Homo sapiens: one gene and its partner. The protein of the gene in region 1 interacts with the protein of each later gene in a pairwise test. Each region holds a gene or a part of one and is shown on either strand. Other genes may lie near its edges.

Evidence for each region. Proteins that work in one complex are often made in the same cells at the same time.
Region 2: the proteins of CDA (region 1) and FOXN1 interact in binary tests that used the Homo sapiens proteins (3 or more experiments, as listed by UniProt).

Annotation. Positions count from the first base shown.
Region 1 is NC_000001.11:20,613,097-20,619,403, forward strand, and holds the end of CDA (cytidine deaminase), read left to right. Parts: intron 1-745; coding exon 746-803; intron 804-5,355; coding exon 5,356-5,472; 3' UTR 5,473-5,807; downstream 5,808-6,307. UniProt on the Homo sapiens protein: This enzyme scavenges exogenous and endogenous cytidine and 2'-deoxycytidine for UMP synthesis.
Region 2 is NC_000017.11:28,502,534-28,509,860, reverse strand, and holds the start of FOXN1 (forkhead box protein N1), read right to left. Parts: upstream 3,514-7,327; 5' UTR 3,418-3,513; intron 1-3,417. UniProt on the Homo sapiens protein: Transcriptional regulator which regulates the development, differentiation, and function of thymic epithelial cells (TECs) both in the prenatal and postnatal thymus.

The DNA of each region.
Region 1 (6,307 bases):
ACTCTACACTTCCTCCAAGGACCAGGACACATGCCTCCTCCTCCATAAAATCTTCCTTCTCAGTCCACAGGCAGGGATGAGCTCCCTCATACTGTGTGTTCCTTCTGCAATTTTTTTTTTTTTTGAGAAGGATTTTCATTCTTGTTGCCCAGGCTGGGGTGCTATGGCACGGTCTTGGCTCACTGCAACCTTTGCCTCCCGGATTCAAGCGATTCTTCTGCCTCAGCCTCCTGAGTAGCTGGGAGCTACAGGCGCCCACCACCAAGCCTGGGTAATTTTTGTATTTTTAGTAAAGACGGTGTTTTACCACGTTGGCCAGGCTGGTCTCGAACTCCTGCCCTCAGGTGATCCACCCACCTCGGCCTCCCAAAGTGCTGGGATTACAGGCGTGAGCTACCAAGCCCAGCTGCATTTTGTTTAACATGATAACTCAGCTGGTTTTTTACATAACAGAGACAAATTCTCTTTGACCTTTGTATTCCCGGGTGTGGGTGATGGTAAGTGCTCAGTAAACGTTTATGGATGGCACTAATGAAAGTCCTGCCCATGGCCCTGCCTTGTGGCAGTGTGGAAAGCCACCACGTGGCCTTCTCAGCCTTCAGGACACAGTGGATCTGTGAATCAGGAACTGCCTGATGGGGTATGACCCAAATCAGGAACAGACCGAGTCTCAGGGCCTGAATCTTAGCAATTGTCCTCAGTCCTTGGGAGAGACTAATTTGAGTTTGATTCTTTGCTTCCCCAGTGACATGCAAGATGATTTTATCTCTCCATGTGGGGCCTGCAGGCAAGTCATGAGAGAGGTAAGCAGCTTCTCTTGCTGTCTGGAATGCAAATATCTTCCCTGTCGCAGGCTATGGGAGCCACGCCAAGTTGCAGGCATGGCAGGCATGGCAGGCGTGGAGACACAGCTACTGTCCTGTTTGCTTGGTTGGCTGACTTCTAAGGCCTCCCTACGCTTGCATGAGTCACTGGAAATTATTCCTTCATTTAACAAATACTTACCGAGTGAGTGTCTGCTTTGTGCCAGGCCCTGAGGTAGCTCTGGGGAGGCACAGGGAAAAGATGGGCCAGGCCCTGCCCTCACAGAGCTCATAGGCTAATGCAGGAGACAGATGATAAACAAGGAGCAAAATAAATAAACAAACAGTGGCGTTTCTGAGTCAAGAGGGCTATAGAGGAAAACAAAATGCAGAAAAAAAAAAGGAGTCCAGTGACAAACGGGCAAACAGGGGACACTGCAGATTGGGGTCAGCAAACAACAGCCCTTGGGCCAAATCCAGCCTGCTGCTTGTATTTGTAAATAAAGTTTTATGGGTATACAGCCATGGCCATTCATTCACCTATTGTCCATAGCCACTTTGCCCTGACACAGCAGAGGTGAGCCATTACGACAAAGGCCACATGGCCTCTAAACCTAAGATATTTACTGTCTGGTCCTTGACAGAAAAAGGTTTGCCAACCCCTGCTTTAGATATCCAGGAAGGCCCTCTTTTTGAGCATGACATTTGAGCAGAAATATAAATAATGAGGAAAAAAATGAGACAGACAAAGGTCAAAAAAGGAGATTCAGAACCAGCAAGTTCAGACCCTTGGTGAATTTGAGAAGAGGCAAGAAGGCCACGAGGGCTAGAGAGCTAGGGCCTGGTAGGTGGAAGGAAAGCAATGGGATTGAAGTCAGAGGGGTGGGCAGAGGCCAGATCACATGGGGCCTGGCCATGGAACGAAGGGTACATTTTATTCCAAGAATAAAGGAAACTGAAGTGTACACTTTTTTTTTTTTGAGACGGAGTCTCACTCTGTCACCCAGGCTGGAGTGCAGTGGTAGAGTCTCAGCTCACTGCAACCTCCGCCTCCTGGGTTCAAGCAATTCTCCTGCCTCAGCCTCCCGAGTAGCTGGGACTACAGGCGCCAGCTACCATGCCCGGCTAATTTTTGTATTTTTAGTAGAGACTGGGTTTCACCATGTTGGCCAGGATGGTCTTGAACTCCTGACCTTGTTATCTGCCCACCTCGGCCTCCCAAAGTGCTGGGATTACAGGCGTGAGCCACCGCGCCCAGCCTGGAGTGTACACTTAAACATGGTTAAAATGGCAAATCTTACATTATATATATTTTATCACATTATATACATTGGGAAAAAAGGGAATAAAGGTAAGCCATTGGATATTTTCAAGAAGAAACTTGAAGGACTTTTTATAAAAGTCCTCTTGATGGAAGGCTGCAATTTCTTCAACTCTAAAAACAAAACGGTAAGCCAGGTATGGTGGCTCAGCCTGTAATCCCAGCAATTAGGGAGGCAGAGGCAGGAGGATCGCTTGGGTCCAGGAGTTCGAGACCTGCCTGGGCAACATAGCGAGACCCTGTTCTCCACAAAAAAAAAAAAAAAGGAATAAAACAAAACAAAAAAATGAAAACGAAGGGATAGTTTAGATCATGGGTTCTTAATCCAGGCTCAGGGGAAGGTTTTCATGTTTATATGTACGTTTGGGGAAAGGGGAATGTCAGTAACTATTGTGGATTCTCAAAGAGATCTGTGTCCTCTAGAGTCCCAAAAGATTAGAGAATCCCACAGGCCCTGAGCTCCAGCATAATATCAAGAGCCCCTCGAAATACGGCATCTTGTGGGCATGATGGCTTACACCTGTAAGCCCTGCACTTTGGGAGACTGAGGCAGGAGGATCACCTTAGCCCAGGAATTCAAAACCAGCCTGGGCCACATAGTAAAACCCGGTCCCTTCAAACAATTTAAAAATTAGCAAGGCATAGTGTGCACGCCTGTGGTCCTAGCTGCTCCAGAGGCTGAGGTAGGAGGATCACTAGAGCCTAGGAGGTCAAGGCTGCAGTGAGCTGTGATCAAGCCACTGCACTCCTGCCTGGGTGACAGAGCGAGATCCGGTCTCAAAAATAAATACATACCTACAGCATCTTGTTTAATCCCCTCCCCAAGACTGAGTGAAATGCATGTCGTTATTCCCATTTCCCAGTGACCACTCTGAGGCTCAGAGGAGTAAAATGACTTACTGAAGGGCCCCCTGCCAGGCGGTGACATATGGGTATCCATGGCCCATCAGGCTGACTCTGAAGCCCGTGCTCCTCACGGCTGCCTCTCTGTCTTTGTGGTTCTGTAAGTTGGACAAAATTATTTTCAACCATGGAGGAAACATAATGGTACTTTGGCATGTGGATGCTGCTTGTACCGTGGGAGTTTCTGCTTTTGGAGTTGTGTTTTGGGAGAAAGGGGGTTGTTTTAGCTTTGTTTTTGTGCCGTGGGGTTTCAAAGCATCTGGGGATGCAGACACTTCCATCTTCCTCCTGCTTCCTGCCAGGAGTGCAAATCAGACACATTTCCCAAATCCAAAAACATACCACCGGGAAAGCAGTGAATTTACACGGTGGAATTTGTCTCACTTGAGAGGGGCAGAAATAGCTGCCCTGCACGGTGGAAATGTCGAAGGTCATATAAGGAAGCCACAACAGGGCGCCAAGTCCCTGGCTCCCAAGGCCCCGACGTGGTCCAATTGCTCAGTGCTGTTTTCTCCAAACAGATTGGATGTTGGCAAACGAGAGAAGGCAAATGAAAAAGCTGAAGGAGGCAGGGGGGAAACTGAAACCAAATGCAAATGATAAGAGATGAGGCGTTGGGGCCAGGGACCTGACACGTAAACTCGCCCTCGGCTCAACTTTTGTCTGTACCTACCCTTAGGCACAGCCTGTCAAGCAGAAAAATTTCCTTCCTTAAAACATTAATTCTAAAAAAGCCAGAAGATTGAGTGTGCCCGGGAATAACTTGGTGATTCAGAGAGAAGTGTGGAAGAACAGGAGGCTGCAGACCTGAGCAGTCACTGGCTACCAACATAATCAATAAGAATGGCATCTATTAATTGAACACCTACTATGTGCATAGAGATGCTTTACATGAATCATCTCTGCATCTCAGAATACCTGGCCAGAAAGAGCTTAGGTCTGTTGACCCCACCTCCAGGGCTCTTGTCATGACACCGCTGCTGATTAACCTCTTGCCTACCATCCTGCATTCTCCCATCCCTAAAACCATTCCATGGACCAAGACACTGAGTGAGCCCCAGAAAGTTATCATTTTCCCAAGGTCACACAGCAAACAAACAGTGCTCCTCATAGTATAGGAGAAAGATCAAGAGACAAATTTTTCTTTGCTGACTTTACTCTGCTAAGCCTCAGTTTCCTCATCAGTAAAATGGGCATCATGATAGCACCTACCTCACAGGGTAGATTATGAAACCACGCATGTGCAGTATCTATGTGGTGTGGTTTGGCTGTGTCCCCACTCAAATCTCATCTTGAATTGTAGCTCCCATAATTCCCACATGTCATGGGAGGGACCTGGTGGGAGGCAATTGAATCATGGGGGCGGGTCTTTCCCACGCTGTTCTCGTGATAGTGAATAAGTCTCATGAGATCTGATGGTTTTATAAATGGGGGTTCCCTCACACAAGTCCTCTCTTGCCTGTTGCCAGGTAAGACATCCCTTTGCTCTTCCTTCCTCTTCCGCCATGGTTGTGAGGCTTCCCCAGCCATGTGGAACTGTGAGTCCATTAAACCTCCTTTTTTATTTTATTTTATTTTTTTTTTTTTTTGAGACCGAGTCTCGCTCTATGGCCAAGGCTGGACTGCAGTGGTGTGATCTTGGCTCACTGCAACCTCTGCCTCCCGGGTTCCAGAGATTCTCCTGCCTCAAGCCTTCTGAGTAGCTGGGATTACATGTGCTTGCCACCACGCCTGGCTAATTTTTGTATTTTTAGGAGAGATGAAGTTTCACCATGTTGGCCAGGCTCATCTCGAACTCCTGACCTCAGGAGATCCGCCTGCCTCGGCCTCCCAAAAGTGCTGGGAGTACAGGCGTGCGCCACAACACCCGGCCTAAACCTCTTTTCTTTATAAATTACCCGGTCTCAAGTATGTCTTTATTAGCAGCTTGAGAACAGACTAATACACTGAGTATATGTAGCAGGCTTGCAGCTTCTCCTGGTGTGAGGTGTAAAGGGGATACTGAAGGGAAGCGGGTGTTAGTTGTCATTTGTCATAGCAGAAGGAGGTTCCAGGGGTTAGCTGTTGCTCTTATAAAGCCCTGGGTGAGTCTTGAATGGTGCCTGTTCACGATGTACCATGCACTGTTCAGTTTCACAGCATTCTTTCGTTTCCTCCTCCCTGCAGCACTATGATCCAGGTACAATTATGGTCATTCCCCTTTTACAGATGAGAAAATCAAGGTAAAGAGAGGAACATTAGACAGTGGCAGAGTCAGACTCAGACCCAGTCCGTCTCAGCCCCCTCAGCCACGCTGTGTCTCTCACGCCAGCTTTGCCTCTTTTCCAGTTTGGCACCAACTGGCCCGTGTACATGACCAAGCCGGATGGTACGTATATTGTCATGACGGTCCAGGAGCTGCTGCCCTCCTCCTTTGGGCCTGAGGACCTGCAGAAGACCCAGTGACAGCCAGAGAATGCCCACTGCCTGTAACAGCCACCTGGAGAACTTCATAAAGATGTCTCACAGCCCTGGGGACACCTGCCCAGTGGGCCCCAGCCCTACAGGGACTGGGCAAAGATGATGTTTCCAGATTACACTCCAGCCTGAGTCAGCACCCCTCCTAGCAACCTGCCTTGGGACTTAGAACACCGCCGCCCCCTGCCCCACCTTTCCTTTCCTTCCTGTGGGCCCTCTTTCAAAGTCCAGCCTAGTCTGGACTGCTTCCCCATCAGCCTTCCCAAGGTTCTATCCTGTTCCGAGCAACTTTTCTAATTATAAACATCACAGAACATCCTGGATCAAAGCGTGTGTCTTGCTCTGTCTCTATCCTTGCTTGCAGCTCTTAGGAGGGACAGCATGATTTGTCTTTATAGGAAGAGCTGGACTCTTTCTGTTCGGAGAGGAAATGGGTACCTTGGAACCATGGACCTTATGGTGTGGAGAGCTGAGGTTTTAGGCAACTTGCCCCAGCGTTCTCTAAACGGGCAGCTCCCCTGGGCTGGACCTAACTGCCAATAACCATCCTAGAGTGTGTTTTTGTCTCATCATAGACCTGAGCACCAGGAGACTCCAGAGTATAAAGGGTCAAGCACGGTTTGTCTAGACAGTGTAACAAAGGGTTTTCTCAGTAGCTACTGTATGTCAGGTAATTTGTGTGCATCATTTTAAGTTTAACATGCTCCACAGTTCTGTGAGGAGGGTGTGGAGATGCCCCCTTTTCACAGATGAGAGCACTGGGCTTTGGAGAAGTTGAATACCCTGCTCTAGGACAATGGCAAACCTCAGAACAGAATCCAGG
Region 2 (7,327 bases), on another chromosome or scaffold:
TGCCCCCTCTTCCTTGGCCCGCCATGCCTGATAGGATCAGTTACGCTCCCAGCCCCCTGAGAAAGCCTGCCCCGGCCCCGCTTTGGGGCTCTATGAGGGTGTCTCTCCATCCCCGCTTCACTGCCACATGCCCGCAGTGTGGAGGTCTGTCTGGGCGCCAGCCCTCCACTTGTCTTGTTGCATCTGAACTCATTTTTACTGTTTGGTGAGCATCCAGCCTTTACGGCCCAGATAGGATGAGGAAGCTAAGGGCTGCTCCAGGGATGATCTTGTCCTGCTCGTTTTGTCTATTGGCATGGCTCTGGGCTTTTCCTCAATGCTCAGACAACCTGGGGGACACCCCAGAACCTGGCGGGGATGCTGGTGAGGGGTGTTAGACTCCAAGGGAACCTGTGACATAGGAGGAGATCCATCCTGAGGAATGGAGCAGGAGGTGGAGATGGGGATAGGAGTGTGGTTGGAGGTGGGAGTGAGGAGATGAGGTAAGGAGGAAGGAGCAGGATGGGGTGGTGGTGATGGAGGCAAGTTTGGGGACGGGGATGAGTAGGAAGGGGGCTGGGCGGGATTGAAGGTGGGAATGGAGATAGGTTATGATGGGGAAAGAGACAGAGACGGGTGGAAGGGTCAGGGATGAGGTTGGAGTTGGGCACAGAGAGGGAGGGAGGGGCAGGGGATGGAGATGAATAAGCTGGAAAGACCCAATGTATTCTGGAACCATGTGGTTCGTGCTTCTGGGAGGCCCTCTCCCAGAGGTCATCTTGTCTTTCCCCAGCTCCTGGAGGTCCTCTCATCCTTCCCCAGCTCCTGGGCATGTTGCCAGCCCAACCCCACCCACCCCAGATCAATGGTTGCCTCTCCACTCAGGAAACCACCTCCTGTGGTCACATAGTCCAGTCAAACTCAACCTAAAATGCTGAGAACTTTCTCTGAACTCTGTCAGTCACTCCTGCTGCAGAAGCCAATCCTGGTTTCCTGAACTCCCCTCTGCCAGCCACAGCAGGGATGGCAGGCTGTGATTTGGAAGGACAGAGGGGAGGGCATACCTGCAGGACCTCGGTCCCCTCCATCCTTTTGTTATGGGCAGATGGGGAGGCAGGCAGAAGTGGACCGCAACTTCGTCAGAATGTGGAGTCAGAGAGAATAAGAGGCGCAGCGAGAGTGGGGCCTTTCTGTCCCTGCCAGCGCCCAAGCAACCAGGGCATTTCATTGTGACTTAGAACAGTCTCTGCCTATGTGCCTGGGCCCTGTGCAGGCAATGGGGGTTCTGCTGGTCCATGAAGACCAGGTGTCAACTCAAGCCAGAAAGGGAGAGGTTAGACATCAGGAAGGACTTCCTAGCTAGAGAAGGTGAAGAGTCCAAGGAAAGAGGCGATATGTTGCTTTCTTAGAGGCCAGATGGGACTGTCTGGGGGATGGGGGGAAAGGAAGGCTTTCCCTGAGGCAACGGATGGCACATGACAGAAGGTGCATGTCACCAGTGGGCTTTCCCCCTTGTCTTTAACTTTCCTAAGCCTTCTCGCGATGAAGCCTTCTCACGGTGAAGACGGCTGTTGGTTGGAGGCAATGTGGCGTCAGTGCGTGGATGAGACAAAGCTGGGGAGCAGGGAGGGGTCCTAAGCCCCCTAATTTTTCTCTAGTTTCCCAGGACCCACTGGTCCAGAAGATTCTGGGGCTCCCTGAGCCCCTGGGAAATAAAGTCCTCTGAGAACTCCCTGGCATTCCCGGGAGAACAGGTTTCTGGCTCTGGGAGTGAGTGAGGCGCCGGGCCTGGGGGTGCAGCGTGCCTCGGCAGGCCCTGGAGCCGGGAGCTGAGCTCGCACAGGCAGCGCGGGCGGGGCGGGGCTGGGCGGGGAGCCGGGAGGACATGCGCCTCTCCCTGTGGCTCCTTCGCCTTTGAGGATCCCCAACCTGGGGCAGCCCTCACCCCGTCTGCCCCTCTCCAGGACTCAGCCTGGCTCTGTCCCTGCCTGGCTCACCCTGGACCCCTCACAGAGCCACAAGAGAAAGGGACCAGGATAGGAGGCCCTGCCCCTTCCCCCATCCACTCGGGGTGCCCTTGTACTGCCTGTGTCTTGTGGTCAGGGAATGAGCAAGATGGTAAAAGGTTCTGAGCCAAGCCCGGTGGGGACAGGACTGCAGTGCAACGCCGCCCTCGGATCCGAGGAACTAGTGTTCCTCAGTGCGGGAGGAAGAAGGCTACCGGGCAAGCAGAGCTGGACCCTGCAGCAGTAAAGACTTCAGAGAGGCTCCAGGAAGGACTTCATGATTGTGAGGAAACTGACCAGATTTTCTCCTTCAGGGATTAGGAAAACTAGGAGGGGCAGCCCTGCCCGATGTGGGCAATGACTGGCATAGGGGCAGGGGATGGATAGGATGACTTCCCAAGATGAGCCCCTCCGCCCGGGTCCCTTCCCACTGACCAGTTGTGCATTGCCACAAAGCACATCCAGACATATCCCCCATGCCTGTAGGTGCCGAGAGAAGAGGCAAACACGCCCACTTGCTAGAGTCTACTCTTCATCCAACGGGCTTCTTTGGATATTTAGGGAGGGCCTGGGGGACTCCACGGGGAATGCCAGAACCTTATCTGAGCGGGTAGTGGGTGGGGAGGAGTCGGGGGAGCTGGCAGGGGCTTCCTGCTGCTTCGGCCACTTCCCTAAGGGCCTTCACTTCCCACGCCCCCAACTCTAGGCCCCAAAGGCCTCAGGGCTCCCTGCCTGGCCCAGCTCTGCTCACCAGGACTCTGCCTTAGGGGTCTTGCGGGAGAGAAATGGAGCTGGGGATAGGAGGCGACTCTGCCCTAAGCCCAGCATCAACTCATGGCCACAGCACCTGTTTGCCACCTGTCTGCTTCGCCACAAGGTGCACCATCTCCTTTCTGCAACCCAGGCCTCTGCATGGGCCCAGGCATCTAGACCCCAGCCCAGGCTGCGTGGAGATGTTGAGCAATTCCTTGATCTGCACACACCCTTGGTGCTCCCCAGCTCCCAGAGCTGGGCTCTCCCTTCTTCACCTGGAAAACCACTACATGGAGAACTTGGCCCCCTGCCTTTCAGCTCTAGTTTTCCAGATCTAACACTTTTGAGTCCTCATTTCCTCCCAGCACAGGGTGGGTGAGCGCATCTCCAACACACAGAGACACACACAAAATCCAGCACACACCAGAATGAGACCCACACCACAGCAAGAGGGATTAAAGTTGGACAACCTAGAAAAGGAACTGGAGGGGGAGGTGGGGGAAGGGGTGCCCCTTGGCCTCCAGGCACTCACCCGAATTCTGAGTCTCCCTTGAGCTGCAGTGAGAACCTGGGTGCTCCCCGTCACTCCTGAGCCCCGTTAAAAAGGCGAACGCCCTCCCCGTGCCCCAGCCCGGCCCTGCTGGCCTCCACGGCTGACTTGGGCCGGGGCTCCTCTTACCTGCTCAGTGAAGCAGGTCGGCGTGGGGGCCCGGGTCTGGGGGGCCAGGAGCTCTGTCCGTCTGTCAGTCCGTCAGCTCGGCCGTCCTGTGTCTGTGCTGACATCAGGTGAGGGGAGGCAGCTGCCAGGTGAGCCAATAATTATGATATCAGCTTCCCCTTGCCCGGAGGGGCTGCGCCAAAACGGGGAGAAGAGAAAGGTGACTAAGAAGCTAGTTTGCTCCTTGGCTCTTGTTTGACAGGTACCGGCTCCCGTGCCCGCCCCAGCCGCACCCTGGCCCCCCAACCCCTCCCTCCTCCTGAGCTAGCCCAGGCCCCCTCCCCTGTCCCTGCCAGTGCGCACAGCCTGTGGCTTGTAGAGGAGGGGGTTGTCCCGTGGCCCCCGCCTGCACTCCAGAAGGGAGATGTCGCCCCCCCACCCACAGGTGGGGCACAGGCCTGTTGGAGCATGCACGTGTGTCAGGAGAGCCTGGCCGCCACATGTATGCTCATGGAGCCCACTCATGAGGTTCTGGGGAACAGCGCTGGGTGGCAGCCCAGGGTTCTCTGAGGCACGGCATGGACAGGTTGGGCCCTTCAAGGGCCAAGCATTAGCACAGATTTGCTGGGAACTGTCTGTCCATGGGGCCGGCCATCTGTCTGTCTCTCCACAGCTCCCGCAGCACCTCGAGGGTGTCTCCTTGTGGGTGGGGGCGTGTGCACCCACTGGAGCATGTGCTGGTGACTCCCATCTCCCTCTCCCTCAGGGGCAGATACATGCGAGTCTGTCTGCATCTCTCCCTGGGTCTGTACATCTGTCTCCTGGGTGGGCGTGTGTCTGCATGTCTTCCCCTGTGTCTGTGTCTCTGTGTCCCCGGACCCAGGCCCGTGTGTCGTCCGTGTGTTGACATGCTCATGTCTGTGCACACGTCTCTGCTGTGGGTCAGCAACCTAGTCCTGTGTGAGCATGTGGGTGTCTGTGGGGGTGGAGATGGGGGCTCCCTGGTTCTGTGTCTTCATCCCAGGCTACTCTTCATTATTTGGAGGATAGAAACAGAAACCTGAGTGGCTGTTGCCCTGGTCTCTGGCCCCTTAGAGTTCATGTTGAGGGTGAAGCCCTAGGAATTGGCTTCCCTGGTCCCAGCTGGACTCAGGCCTGGAGCCTGTCCCTGCTCCCTGACAGCTTTCTCTGCTGTTCCCCCAGACCCTGTCCTCACCTCCTTCTCTCTGCTTCCTTTTCATCTTCTTTGCCCTCCATCCCCTTGTCTCCTGTCCCTGGTCATTCTTTCCCTCCTCCATCTCCCTGACCCTTGCACTGGCCTCTAAGCCCACTTGTGTCTCTTCCTGGAGCTAAAGGCTCTAAGGACCTAGTACCAGCACTGCTGCCCAGCAAGTTCTGGGATTTGGCTTCTGGCCTGAGGGTATGGACAAGTCAGCTCTTCCCCAGTGACTATCTCATTCCAAGGAGAGAGGTAATATCAACCCTGGCCGGGGCACAGTGGTGGTCATCTGGCACAAGTGTGGAGCATGCTAAAACATTTAGAGAGTTCTTAGTGGAGGCGGAAAATGTTCTGTACTAAATATCCATTTCAGAAAAGAGGATGCAGGGGCAGACAGCAATGAACCCATTTGTAAGTGATGGTTAGCTGTGTGATCTTCCATACTCCCCACTCTGAGCCTCAGTTTCCTCATTTGTTAACAAGGGAGTAATACTCACCCACAGGGTGGTTGTGAGGATTAAATAAATTTATATGTCTAAAGTTCTCAGCACAACCCCTTGTATATAGTAGATGCTCAGTAAACAAGTGGCTCCTTTCTCTTCACCAAGGCCAGTGGTGCTGGGAAAGAAATGAGGACGTGCTGGCATGCCCACTCCAGTATAAGAATTGTGTTCTGGGGTTAGGAGAGGGGCCCTGACTCAATCCACCTTTCTCTGGGACTCACAGTAGCAGTCAAAGCTCTGCTCCCTTAACCCTAATAGTCTACGGAGTTTCACAGTGAAAGGGCAGCTATCAAGACCTGGGTGTTTGCTAACTGCTTCTATCTGATGTACACAGAGCTAATTGTTATTTCTAGACTCACAGATATTTCTGTATGGATACTCTGGGCACAGAAAACCACAAAAGTTGTAAGTTGAAGGCTGCCATGGTTGTTATCAATGAACATTATTCTGAAAGCCCCAACCAGTACAATAAGAGAAAGAAATAAGGCATTAATATAAGAAGGAAGGATGCAAAACCTTCAAGAATTACAAATGTTGTGCTTATTTAGGAAATCGAAGAGAATCGACTAAAATACTATTACAACAAATGAGAGAATGAAGTAAGATAGCAGAATATATCAATGTATAAAAATCAAAACCATTTCTATACAGCTAAAACAACCAATTAAAATAGGAGATAGCTGGGCACGGTGGTTCACACCTCAGCAATTTGGGAGGCTGAGGCGGGTGGATCTCTTAAGCTCAGGAGTTCAAGACCAACCTGGGCAACATGGCAACACCCTGTCTCTACGAATAATACAGAAATTAACTGGGTGGGGTGGCACGCGCCTGTAGTCCCAGCTACTTGGGAGGCTAAGGTGGGAGGATTGCTTGAGCCAGTGATTCAGAGGTTGCAGTGAGCCGAGAGGTTTCGGTGAGCCACTGCATTCTAGCTTGGGGGACAGAGTGAGACCCTGTCTCAAAAAAAAAAAAAAAAAAAAAAAAGAAAGAAAAAAAAGGAGACAAAAAGATTTAGCTCACAAAAATAACAATACAAAATATCCAGGAATAAACTTAATAAGAAATGCATGAAATCTACATGAAGAAAACAATACATTTTTACTGACAGACATAAAATAAGACCTGAATAAAAAATAAGGGCATATCATGTTACTGAACTGGAAGGCTGAAAAAAAAAAAAAAAAGTAAAAAAGAAAAAAAAGGCTAGGCATGGTAGCTCATGCCTGTAATCCCAGCACTTCGGGAGGTGAGAGGATCGCCTGATCCCAGGAGTTTTGACACCAGCCTGGGCTACAAGGCGAGAGACCCTGTCTCTAAAACAGCAACAACAGGAAGGCTGAATATAATATTGTAAGGATGTCAGTTCTCCTCTAAATAGAAGCTGAATGTAATTCAAATCAAAAGTCTAAAGGATTTTTTGCCCCCTAAACTTGACGAGTTGATTCTATAGTTTGGGGGAAGGGTAAATACATGAGAATAGCTTGGAGCTTTTTGAGAAAGAAGACTAACAGAGGTAACTTTCCCTGCCAGTTTTCAAAATGTTCAATAAGGCTTCCATAATTAAAGCTGCAACTTTGATACAGAAATAAATAAATTAATGGAAGATAATAGAGTCCAGAATAAACTTGGATATTTGTGAGAAATGGGAATATGATAACAAGGTATTTTAAAATAGATATATAATAGTAGGGTATTTTACTTTATTTTTCTGAGACAGGGTCTCGCTCTGTTGCCCAGGCTGGAGTGCAGTGGCAAGATCATAGCTCACTGCAGCCTCCACCTCCTGGACTCAAGTGATCCTCTCACTTCAGCCTCCCCAGTAGCTGGGACTACAGTTATACCATGCTCAGTTAGTTAAAAAAGAATTTTTTTTTGTAGAGATGGGGTGTTGCTCTGTTGCCCAGGCTGGTCTCAAACTCCCAAAGCACTGGTATTATAAGCTTGAGCCACGACATCTGGACTGTAAAGTATTTTAAAGTAGCAAGTAAAAAATTTAATAAATGGAGTTGGGGCAATGAACTTTCCATTGGAAAGAAATAAAGTTAAATCCTACTTCACACTGTACATTAAAAAATCTAGATGGATTAACAATCTAATGTAAAAATGAAAATCATACAAACAAATAGAAAAAATATAGGAAATATTTTTATGATTATGGAGTGGAGAAAGGCATTTTTAAACATGACATCAAATGCAGAAGCCATAAAGG